Homo sapiens: one gene and its partners. The protein of the gene in region 2 purifies or fractionates together with the protein of the main gene of each other region. This does not show direct contact. Each region holds a gene or a part of one and is shown on either strand. Other genes may lie near its edges.

Region 1 (3,634 bases), on a different chromosome or scaffold from region 2:
TCACCCATCCCCTCTAGCCAACTTAATTCCTCCCTCAGGCCCTTTTTACTTCCTGTCCTCTCTGCCTAGAATGTGTTTCCTCTCACTGTGGCTCGCTTCCTCACTTCTTTCAAAATGTTCCAAATACTATCTCAGAGACCTTTCCTGACCCCAACCATACTACCTAAGATAGCAACACTATTCCCCCGTTCTGCTGTAGTTTTATTTATAGCATTAAATACCTGAAATTACATTATGCATATATTTCCTTTTCTGTCACTTACACCAAGATGAAAATTCCCTGAGGGCAGGAATATTGTCTGGCTTATTTATTGCTATATCCTCAGTGCTTGGTGACGTACCTGCCAAAGAGCAGGAGTTGAGTGACTATTTGTTGTTGAATGACTGAAATTGAGTTCTCTTCTGTCAGAACTCTTACCAGGCTTTGTGAGATATTCCTTACGAGTTCTTAATCTATAGCTGTAATTATTTAATGCATATTTATCTATCACACAAGCTTGTATGCTCTCAGAGGACAAGAATTATGTTTTATTCATTTGGGAGTACATAGGCGGTATTTAAACAATGGTGCTATCTTAAACACCAAATATCAACTGCAGTTCACTTTTTCCGTGTGGGGACTAATATCAAGATTTCATATGAATTATAGTATAATCCAGAAGTATGAAAAAATACATCATATTTAACTTATAAAGCATTCATCTGCATGTTATAAGATATTACAGTAAATACAATTAGGTACTTACCATTTTATCTTTACTTTAAAAACAATGCCTTTTCCAAAATATAAAAAAAAGACCTATTTTTAAAGAACTATTTAAAGATGGCTTTGAAAACAACACTTTTATTTACAACAAATAGATGGTAGTGCAACAGCACTCGTGGATGTTTACGATAAATAAAAATACTAGTATTCTGGCATCCTTTGGGTACAGGCCCTTTTATATTTATAGATGTCTACAATGACTCATAAAAGTAAAATCAATAAAGGCTATTAATTTGTATTTCAACCTGAATTTGAGAAACCAATGAAGATTAATCATTTATTTGGGATCTAGATCCATATATCTGAAAACTGAAGTATAAAGTTTCTCATTTCCATTTACCTTGTCAACAAACATATCCCAAACATTTCAGCATCTGTAAAAGGTGATCTATTTAGCATCTGTAATAAGTGATTTATAGTTATATATGCTAAATAAAGGTTGACACAGCTGGATCCTAGAAGCTCAGATTTTATAAATTTAAAATAGATTAAGTATTTATGCCAAAAAACAAGAACTGGATCTAGGATTTTATTTTAAATTATGGAAGTCTCTGGGGAAAAAAAATAGCAATGGAATGACAATAGATGTCAGATATTTCTCTGAGAAGTATATAGTTTCTCAATTTTCGCTAGGTAGTGCATCCCAACTGAATTAAAACTAAAGCATATTTACAGTGCATTTTTTCTCACTAAAATTTCCCAATTCTAAAATGGTCTGGCCAGGCGCAGTGGCTCACGCCTGTAATCCCAGCACTTTGGGAGGCCAAGGCAGGCGGATCACAAGGTCAGGAGATTGAGACCATCCTGGCTAACATGGTGAAACCCCATTTCTACTCAAAATATAAAAAAAAGTTAGCCAGGCGTGGTGGCAGGTGCCTGTAGTCCCAGCTACTCAGGAGGCTGAGGCAGGAGAATGGCGTGAACCCGGGAGGTGGAGGTTGCAGTGAGCTGAGATCACGCCACTGCACTCCAGCCTGGGCGACAAAGCAAGACTCCATCTCAAAAAATAAATAAATAAAAAAATAAAATAAAATGGTCTGGATTTGGTCAACACCTTATTCAGTAAATCCTTAATTTACCTTGAGACATACAAAGACATTCTTTTAAAGAGCTATTTTCTTGGTATTGCACAAAGGTTAATTTTAAAGCAATCCAGGCAAGTAAGCTCACAAAAAGAAGTACATTCATCTAATCCATTTAGCAAATGTTGCAAATCAGCTTCCACCAATAAAACGTAGAAATCTGTGAAACTCTATCCTTCGTGTCAGTTTTAACATTGTGTTGATGGCAGCCATTTCAGGCAGAGGTAGCCAAGTTCCATATATATGGGGAAGGCAAAAAGCAAGAAAAACATTGCAGGAGACTTAGCAGTTCTCTGGCTTCTAATGACTATAGAGCAATTTCGAATATGAGCCATGTTTCTATGCAGAATTCTTCTTTTATGCCTTAAACACAAAAGAGCTTGTTGCTGCCTTGGGCAGATATACTGGAATTGTCCTCTTTGAGCTTACTTTCTCTTTTCTCTAAGGTCAAGTAAAAAATGTGAGACGTTTTCATATACCACAAAGGTAATACAGCAGGCTGGAGTCACTCTAATCAAATTAGGAGCAATTCCCTTGTAAAATCCACCGACGCCTTCTTTCCTTTAGAGGGAAAAATAGATAATGCTTAATTTTGTATAGAGCTAGCTTGAAAACACGGAAGTTCTAACTGACACAAGGCATGGAGCAAGCAGCAGTCAAACCTTACTCTGATTTAAGTTCATGTTTTCAATGTCCTAAAGTAATGTAGTTTATAAGCCATCTGTAGGGATTTACATTCCTTTTATGGATGGACTGAGTAAGAGAGGGTAGGGACACCTCAAAACTGAACTAAAAAGTGCTTTCAATTAGCTATCTTTCAAATGCTTTTAAATGTATGTACAAGCAGGAGTTTTAATTGACCTAATGTAGGCATTAAAAAACCTCATAGCTTGGATAAATGCTAGCCAACATTAAATACAGCACATACAAATATAAAACTTTATTTCCTTAATGCCAATAATATGGAATACGGCCTAGAAATTTGTCACTTAGGTGCTCATTAAATATTTCTTGAATTGAATTAAATTTAAACATCCTAAATGTTCTCCTCTGTTCCTTTAGAATTAAAGGGAAATATGGTGATGTCTGCCTATAATAATTTAACTAGTCTCATACTGAAGAACAAACATCTCTTTCATATATGGAAACAAGTATTTGCAAAAGTTATGGTGCCAGTAGCAGGTGTGGAGCCTTCTTGAATGTATTAAGCTAGTCTTATGACTTCTTATATTCAATACCATTCAGATATTTTATAACACCTAAATTTTATTTTCCAAAACATTTTCACACATTTAATTTGATTCTTATAACAACCTATTAGTTAGAAAGTCTTACTTTACAAATGAAGAAATTAAGTCTCAGAGAGATTAAGGCCATGGTCACATACGTAATAACTGGGAAAGCAGGGACCACCAATCATGTTTTCACCACAGCAAACTGGCCTTTGCTATAAAACTAGTATCAACAGGATGGTCTAAGATATGCAAGGTACCTTGTCAAAGCAATTTTTGATATAGCACGTGCTCTCACCTCCATGTCTTTGTGATTACATCTATTACACCACTGTAAAACATGTGTTGATCCTGAAGACGAGCTCTTACGACTTGATATGGGTATGTTGCTGCGACAGCAAATATTTTGGATAGTGCTGCAACAGATATATATTCTACTGTGCTCTAAAATGGCAATACAAAACAGTTTTTTCTTTAGACAGGATTTCTTTAAAAATACAGAAGTAAAAATTATATACAAAAAACATTTAAATGGATCTTTAAGGGATTCTATT
Region 2 (4,338 bases):
CATAAAACGTGACCTACATTAAGTTAGCAAGTTAAGTCTGAAAGCGTCTACCTTCCCTGGGGAGGGGGAAGGTGTAGGCAGGGCAGAGATTTGTAGTCCAGCCCTCTTGCCACAAATTATGAATTAGAGAGGAATGACTTTGCTTTTTTAATGATCTCCAGAGAATTTTCCATCATTTCCCTCTCTTCACCCAGCTCCTTTGCAACCACTGCCAGAGAAGTCTTCCTTTAGCTTCTTAAACATCGATCCTAAAACACTTCCAGACACCTGTGCTGCTCCTTTCAGTTCCCATGGAGATTAGGCTGTGTAACAATCTCGCAAAGACGTTCCCCTCCGTCTCCTCATCCTCTTTTCAAACCCTTTTACGATTTCCCATCTCACTCAGCATGACAGTCAAAGTCCCTGTGATGGCCAACTTCTGCATCACCTAGCCAGTCTGCCACCGCCAAAACTCTCCAGCCTCATCTTTCTACTCTTCCCCTGGTTCCTTGCCCACGCCTTTACACTTGTTCTCTGCTTGGAATCTTCCCTCCCCTCCTTGAGGAACTTTCTCAAATGTCACCTTCCCTCAATACTCCCCCTCCTCCATTTAAAACTATAAACTTCCAACTCTCTAAGCCCCTAAAGTACTCTATATTTAACTTATTGTATAAACTACTGTCCCTACTTGTAAGTTCCAAGATTGCAGGGATTCACCCGCTTTGTTCACTGCTGTCTGCCAAGGTCTAGAACAGTGCAAGTTACCCAACAGGAGTTCAATAAACAGCCATTCATTTAACAAATATTTGCTGAGCACTTCGTCCCGTCCAAGTTTGTTAAATCAAGACAAATAAGACACCGTCCCTGCCTTTAACGCACCAGATGGAGAAATGCACCACAGACATAAATGTGCAATACAGGCCTGACACTACGGCCACAAGCAAGTCAAAGAACGTGCCAAAAGTTCAGAGGAAGAAGCCTCGGCTTCGCCTTTCGGGAGACCAGTCCAGCTTTCCACCATCACGCTGCTCATCAGGGACCATCTCCGGGGGTCTCCTCTAGACCCCAAGGGAGGAGCGGGTCCCGCCCGCCATTCCCAGGTCTCAGAGTTTACTTGTCCAGAGATGCAACTTCCGGCCTCTTCAGGCCGGGCAAGATTTAAGGAAAGAAAAGAAACATAAGGACCTCCGTTCTTCGGTCTCCGTCCCCTCCCCTTCCCCCGCGTGCCGTCCCCACAACGGGCCAGGACTGAACCCAACTCTCGACCAACTCCCGGCAGCAAAACTAAGCACCCTACTTCCGTTGTCCCCACCTGTTCCCGGCGTCCCCTTCGGCTACTCCCGGCGTTTGCGCAAGCGGTCCCACGTGGGCTCGGGCGGGGCTAGCGCCGCGGCGGGGGCTGGGCACGCCCCTAGCGCATAGCTGGCTTCTGATTGGCTTTCCGGTGCTCGCCCGAGCAGGGTTGGGGCGAGTGGACCGCGCCTCTAAAGGCGCTTGCCAGTGCAATCTGGGCGATCGCTTCCTGGTCCTCGCCTCCTCCGCTGTCTCCCTGGAGTTCTTGCAAGTCGGCCAGGATGTCTCAGGTACAGCGCGTGCACAGCCAGGCTGCGAAGGTGCAGCGGGCGGGAGGCCCGTTGGGGGCTCAGCCGGCTGCCAGAAGCTCTCGGGCTCTTTCCTTCCGTGCCCCTCACTTGCTCATGGGCCCATGCCTAGCCCTGATTCGTTGGACAGAGCCTTGTGAGCGGGATTTTCCGTTTGGGGATTTCTAAATCTGCTGCCCACCCCGCAACTGCCGGAAAGTTGCCCATGGGGTGGACTTCGCTGTGTAGCGGGAGAGGGGTGGGAGTCGAGGGTGCTTGATGGAGAGATGGGGGAAGGGGTTGCACGGATTGGAGGAGCGAGGAGACTCAGTCCCCATCCCGAAGCACAGGGCAGGACGTCGCGGCGGAGTGGGGAAGCGAGGAGTCCGTGGCCGAGAGCTTGGAGGTCAGGGGAAGTACGGGGCCGGCTGCTCAGAGTGCGGGACGAGGAGAATCGCGGCCCGGGGAGAGGTGACCCAGGGGCCCCTCCCTTCTCTCCAGTGTAGACCCTTGTCTGAGACCGAGCTATGTGGGGCGACCTCTGGCTCCTCCCGCCTGCCTCTGCCAATCCGGGCACTGGGACAGAGGTCGGTGTTGAACGCGCGGGCCCCAGGGGGAGGGAGGGGACCAACGGGCTCCGGCGCTGACACCGCGGCACTCATGCCCTGTCCCCTTTCAGCTGTTTCCAGCATACTGTGCCCCGTCTGTCCTCAGGCCAGGGCTTCGCTGCAGCCCCGGCCACTCCCTAGTGCCTGGCCCGGTGGTGGCCAGGCAGTTGGCCGCGCTGCTTCTCCCGCAGAGGGGACCCCCACTGGGGGCGAAGGCTTGGCCTGCCCTCTTCACTGCTGTATTTCCAGACCTGATGCCTGCGTTTGTGAGAGCTCTGGATATATGGTTTTCGATTGAATGAGTGAACTGGAGGGGCTTCCCCTTCTTGTGTTGCTGAATCTTTCTAGCTGCCCTGTTGGGGCAGGGAGGGGCAGACACACTTCAGGGGCTGCATTGCCCGAAGGGTGCCACCTTTCCCACCTCTCCATCCCCGTAACTGGGCTGTCATCAGGCCACAGTAGGATTCTTACCCTCTCCCACCCAGAGGAGGCCCTCAATCCTCTCCTCTCCCTTCCATTTAGGCTGAGTTTGAGAAAGCTGCAGAGGAGGTTAGGCACCTTAAGACCAAGCCATCGGATGAGGAGATGCTGTTCATCTATGGCCACTACAAACAAGCAACTGTGGGCGACATAAATACAGGTATGCAGAGCGGGGGTTGGAAGGGCATCTGCTCATCAAAGCAGGCTCAGCAGCTCAGACTGGAAGTCCCTGGGAACTTCACTCTCAAACTGCCTGAGGCCCTACTCTTCAGGTGGGGTATGGTGATGGTTCCTGAGGTGGAAAAGACCATGTTCCGGATTCTCAGTGTCTCCAGTAGTAACAGAATTCAAATCCTGGTTTTAGAAGGTCTTTACTGGTTATCACCAGCAGCTACTCTCTACTAGGGAAGAAGCAAAGGCTGCAGCTTGGAAAAGACTTGCTGAAGGCTCTCAGCTCAGTAGTATCATTGTTGAGCCGTTCAGCTTCTGCCCTAGATGGGCAGGATCAAAGTTGGAGCACTTTTTGGAGCACTTGACAGCCTGGCCAAGCCTGATGTCAGGAGCAGAGAAGCACCTGGTTTCTTGGGCTAGGTCAGAGCATTTCGCTAACAAGTCTGTGCCTTCCTGATGATAACTTTTTCCCTGCCCAGAAATCTTGGTGCAGATTTTGAGGCTGTGCTTTGGACTGTCATGTTCTGTAATAACATCTTTCCTGCCTTGGGCAGGTTTCATTCTGTCCCTAAGTCCCTGAAACATGGGTGGATACTGAGGCAACAGCGCAGTGCATTCTGTGCAAGGACTCAGGGTTATCATGGCAGCACAGAAGGGAGGTCTCCCCTGCCCCTGCTGAGGAAGAAGGCGAGCATGGTCCCTATTTCCGCAGTAGCTGGGGTGGAAGATGGAGCAGGTGGGCTGGCTGCCAACCAGCTGGAAGCAGGAAATAGTACCCAGAATGACAGATCACAGGCAGTACCATATCAAACCCTGGGGTTCACATGGAGCACTTAGTTGAAGAAGGTCTTATGGCGAAGGTGAGTTTTACAGTGAGTTCGTAAACTCTGTCCTTCCAGGGAGGGGAAGGAAAGGTGAAGTGGGGGAGGCCAGAGGTGCCAAGATGCTTTTCTGACAAACAGTATTTTCACAGAGACTGGCCTGTGCCCGTACTAGAGTTACCGATTTTCACATGAGTCTAGATAGACTGGCATAGGAATCTATCACTTACTGATCAAAGAGGTGTCATCGGCTCTCTCTAGGGCTGTACTATACAGCCCTATTACACGATTATAAAACATGATAGTCCAAACACGATAGTTTAGTATAATAGCCAGTAGCCACATATGACTATATAAATTTTAACTGAGGCTGGGCGCTATGGCTCATGCCTGTAATCCCAGCACTTTGGGAGGCCGAAGCAAGCGAATCATGAGGTCAGGAGTTTGAGACCAACCTGGCTAACGTAGTGAAACCCCATCTCTACTAAAAATACAAAAATTAGCTGGGCATGGTGGCATATGCCTGTAGTCCCAGCTACTTGGGAGGCTGAGGCAGGAGAATCGCTTGAACCTGGGAGGTAGAGGTTGTGGTGAGCCGAGGTCGCACCACTGCACTCCAGCCTGGGCAACAGAACGAGACTCTGTCTCTAAAAAAAAAAATTTTAACTGAAAATAGTTAAATAAAATCAAGTTTAGTCT
Region 3 (3,649 bases), about 81 Mb from region 2:
TGAACCATGGAAGGGGCCTCTTTCCTGCATCTCACCACTCATGTGCTCTAGGGCCTATGACTGTGCCTGGCAAGCAGAAGGTATGCGTAAAGTGAGCCTAAAGGGAACTCAGTCACATGTGCCGTACTTACTTTATCAAACCCTCTGACTCCTCCATGCAGACTGTTGGGTTCCTTGTTAATGGCCAGGTGATACTCCTTCCCATCCACCTTGAAGGTTCCTTTGGCGATTCGGTTGGCCACCCTCCCAATAACTGCTCCAAAGTATGGCTGCTTTTGGAGGTATCCTGCAAGGACAAGGGATGACAGCACTTTTAAAACTTCAATTCAGGCTGGGCACGGTGGCTCACACCTGTAATCCCAGCACTATGGGAGGCCGAGGCAGGCGGATCACAAGGTCAGGAGATCGAGACCATCCTGGCTAACACGGTGAAACCCTGTCTCTACTAAAAATACAAAAAAATTAGCTGGGCGTGGTGGCCGGCGCCTGTAGTCCCAGCTACTCGGGAGGCTGAGGCAGGAGAATGGCATGAACCTGGGAGGTGGAGCTTGCAGTGAGCCGAGACCGCGCCACTGCATTCCAGCCTGGGCGACAGAGCGAGACTCCATCACACACACACACACACACACACACACACACACACACACACACACAAAAAAAAAAAAAAAAAACAAAAAAACCCTCAATCCAAAGGTGTGTTGCATGCCACTGTCCCTCACCTTCTTCAGACGAATGCTGCACATGGTAACATCTTGGGCATGTCAAAGTCCTCACTGAATCACAGAAAATGGCTTTCATTACATACGATCCTTTCCTTTTCCAAAAGTAATTAATATTCATTATACAAAATTGTAAAGAATTTTATACAGCACAAAGAAAAAACTGAAATTATCCTTCATCTCATCACTCGAGAGAGCCACTGCTAATATTCTTATGTGCACACACTCTTCCATCTTTTAGTATATGCATCTGTGTGCTTTTTTCTTTCTTTTTATAAAACTATTTGTTGTGGTGGTGGTTGTTAAGACAGAGTCTCACTCTGTTGCCCAGGCTGGAGTGCAGTGGCCCCATCTCGGCTAACTGCAAACTCCATCCCCCAGGTTCAAGTGGTTTTCTTGCCTCAGCCTCCTGAGTAGCTGGGAGTAGAGGCATGCACCACCACACCAAGCTAATTTTTGTATTTTTAGTAGAGACGGGGTTTCACCATGTTGGCCAGGCTGGTCTCGAACTCCTGACCTCAGGTGATCTGCCCAACTCGGCCTCCCAAAGTGCTGGGATTACAGCCATGAGTTACTGTGCCCAGGCTTTTCTCTCTTTCAAAACATCTTATTGTACTGTATGCACCTATTTTCAATCCAAAGTTGACTCTGAGTAACTGAAACTGCAGGAAGCAAAACTATGGTTGAAGGGGGACTGTATAACACTGCTTTGTAATCTCCTTTTCTCTAGGCCAAAGTTATACTTTCGTGTGGTCTTGAGGGGAAGCGATCTTATTCTTTCTCTTCTTATTTTTTTAAATCACATAATTAGTACATTAAAATATCCTTTAGAGAGAGTTAGGTAATACACAAGGATATAGAGTAGGTTTGCCAGAGGAAATATAGAATGCTTGGTTAAATGTGAGTTTCAAATAAACAACAAATAATTGCTTAGTATAAGTTTGTTCATGTTATTATTATACATGGGACATACTTATACTTTAAAAGTTGTGTCCAGGCGCGGTGGCTCACGCCTGTAATCCCAGCACTTTGGCAGGCTGAGAAGGGTGGATCACGAGGTCAAGAGATTGAGACCATCCTGGCCAACACGGTGAAACCCCGTCTCCACTAAAAATACAAAAATTAGCTGGGTGTCGTGGCCTGTGCCTGTAGTCCCAGCTACTTGGGAGGCTGAGGCAGGAGAATCGCTTGAACCCAGGAGGCAGAGGTTGCAGTGAGCCAAGATCATGCCATTGCACTCCAGCCTGGCGACAGAGCGAGACTGTCTCAAAAAAAAAAAAAAAAAAAGTATAAGCTGTTTATTTGAAATCCACATTTAACCAGGCATCCTGTACTTTTATTTGTGAAGTCTAGCAACCTAAACAAGGACTAAAACACAAAAGCCTTCCTTCACCTCTCCACTCCCCTCCTTTCCAATGGTAACCACTATTAACAGTCTGGCACGTACACTTCATTTAAAAATTTGAATTAACTACATATTAGCAAATATATAAATACACAAACACACATATTCCATATAAAGAGAATCATACTACATAGAGTATCACACTATAATCGTACATTGTTCTGCAACTTTTCATTTATCAAATATCTTCAGATTGCTCCATGTCATGACATATCTACCATATTCCTTTTTATTTTTTTTTGAGTTCCCTTTTTTTTTTTTTTTGAGACGGAGTCTCGCTCTGTCGCCCAGGCTGGAGTACAGTGGCACGATCTCAACTCACTGTAAGCTCCGCCTCCCAGGTTCACGCCATTCTCCTGCCTCAGCCTCCCGAGTAGCTGGGACTACAGGCACCCGCCACCATGCCCGGCTTATTTTTTGTATTTTTAGTAGAGACGGGGTTTCACCGTGTTAGCCAGGATGGTCTCGATCTCCTGACCTTGTAATCCACCCGCCCCGGCCCCATATTACTTTTGATGGCTACATGGTATAATAATCAGCATAAACTGTTTGGGGCCTTTTTAGGGGAGGGGCTGTAAAAAGCAAAGTAGCGTCCTCATACTTACAACTTTGGGCGTGGGCATATTATGGTACTTTTCTTCTCTTTAAATTCCTCTGTGCTTACTTTACGATGGAAAAGATTAAGGTCTGGAGATTGTTTTCTGTATTATTACCAAGATTACTTTCCACTCTAGTTTTCACTTAGATGTCCTCTGAATTCCATTCCCTTTTCCCGTGGTACTCTGTATCTGTCATGTCTACTTCAGATCAGCAGAGAATGCAATTCAAGCATATGAACTATTTTTTCAAGGGATGGAGAGGCTCTCAGGATACAGACCCTGAGCTGATTAGGCCAGTTACAGGTCACAGGTTTCCATTACCCAACTGGTTGGGTACAAATTAAACATTAATCCTTCTCTTCCAGGCCTTTCCTGGTTTGCTTCTTTGCTAATCTGCAGGTGCATCAGAGTGTTGCCCATTGACTATCATAATAGCTAACACTTACTGAGTGTTGTGTTTTTTTTGAGACGGAGTTTTGCTCTTATAGCCTGGGCTGGAGTGCAGTGTGCGGTCTTGGCTCACTGCAACGTCCGCCTCCTGGATTCAAGCAGTTCTCCTGCCTCAGCCTTCCAAGTAGCTGGGATTACAGGTGCCCGCCACCAAGCCCAGCTAAATTTTTTTTTTTTTTTAATAGAGATGGGTTTTCACCATGTTGGCCAGGCTGGTCTCAAACTCCTGACCTCAGGTGATCCACCTGCCTTGGCCTCCCAAAGTGTGTCCCAGCCACTTTCTAAGTGCTCTACATTTACTTCATTTCATACTCAGAACGTTTCTATGATGTAGACACTATTACTATCCCAATTTACAGATGTGGAAACTGAGGACAGAAAAGTTAAATAACTTGCCCCAAAACACACAGCTAAGTAGTGGCAGAACCAAGACTTGAATCCAGACAGTCTAGCTCATGAGTCCATGTTCTTCAGTA

The links.
Region 1: the proteins of DBI (region 2) and SLC25A32 fractionate together in Homo sapiens (co-fractionation; one large-scale study listed by BioGRID). This does not show direct contact.
Region 3: the proteins of DBI (region 2) and GALM fractionate together in Homo sapiens (co-fractionation; one large-scale study listed by BioGRID). This does not show direct contact.

What each region holds. Positions count from the first base shown.
Region 1 is NC_000008.11:103,398,138-103,401,771, forward strand, and holds the end of SLC25A32 (solute carrier family 25 member 32), read right to left. Parts: intron 3,525-3,634; coding exon 3,379-3,524; intron 2,410-3,378; coding exon 2,274-2,409; 3' UTR 501-2,273; downstream 1-500. UniProt on the Homo sapiens protein: Facilitates flavin adenine dinucleotide (FAD) translocation across the mitochondrial inner membrane into the mitochondrial matrix where it acts as a redox cofactor to assist flavoenzyme activities in fundamental metabolic processes including fatty acid beta-oxidation, amino acid and choline metabolism as well as mitochondrial electron transportation.
Region 2 is NC_000002.12:119,365,499-119,369,836, forward strand, and holds the start of DBI (acyl-CoA-binding protein), read left to right. Parts: upstream 1-1,478; 5' UTR 1,479-1,553; coding exon 1,554-1,562; coding exon of another isoform or gene 1,563-1,592; exon of another isoform or gene 1,593-1,838; coding exon of another isoform or gene 1,839-2,030; intron 2,031-2,060; exon of another isoform or gene 2,061-2,086; coding exon of another isoform or gene 2,087-2,146; intron 2,147-2,215; exon of another isoform or gene 2,216-2,421; coding exon of another isoform or gene 2,422-2,433; intron 2,434-2,689; coding exon 2,690-2,807; intron 2,808-4,338.
Region 3 is NC_000002.12:38,672,549-38,676,197, reverse strand, and holds part of GALM (galactose mutarotase), read right to left. Parts: intron 287-3,649; coding exon 132-286; intron 1-131. UniProt on the Homo sapiens protein: Mutarotase that catalyzes the interconversion of beta-D-galactose and alpha-D-galactose during galactose metabolism.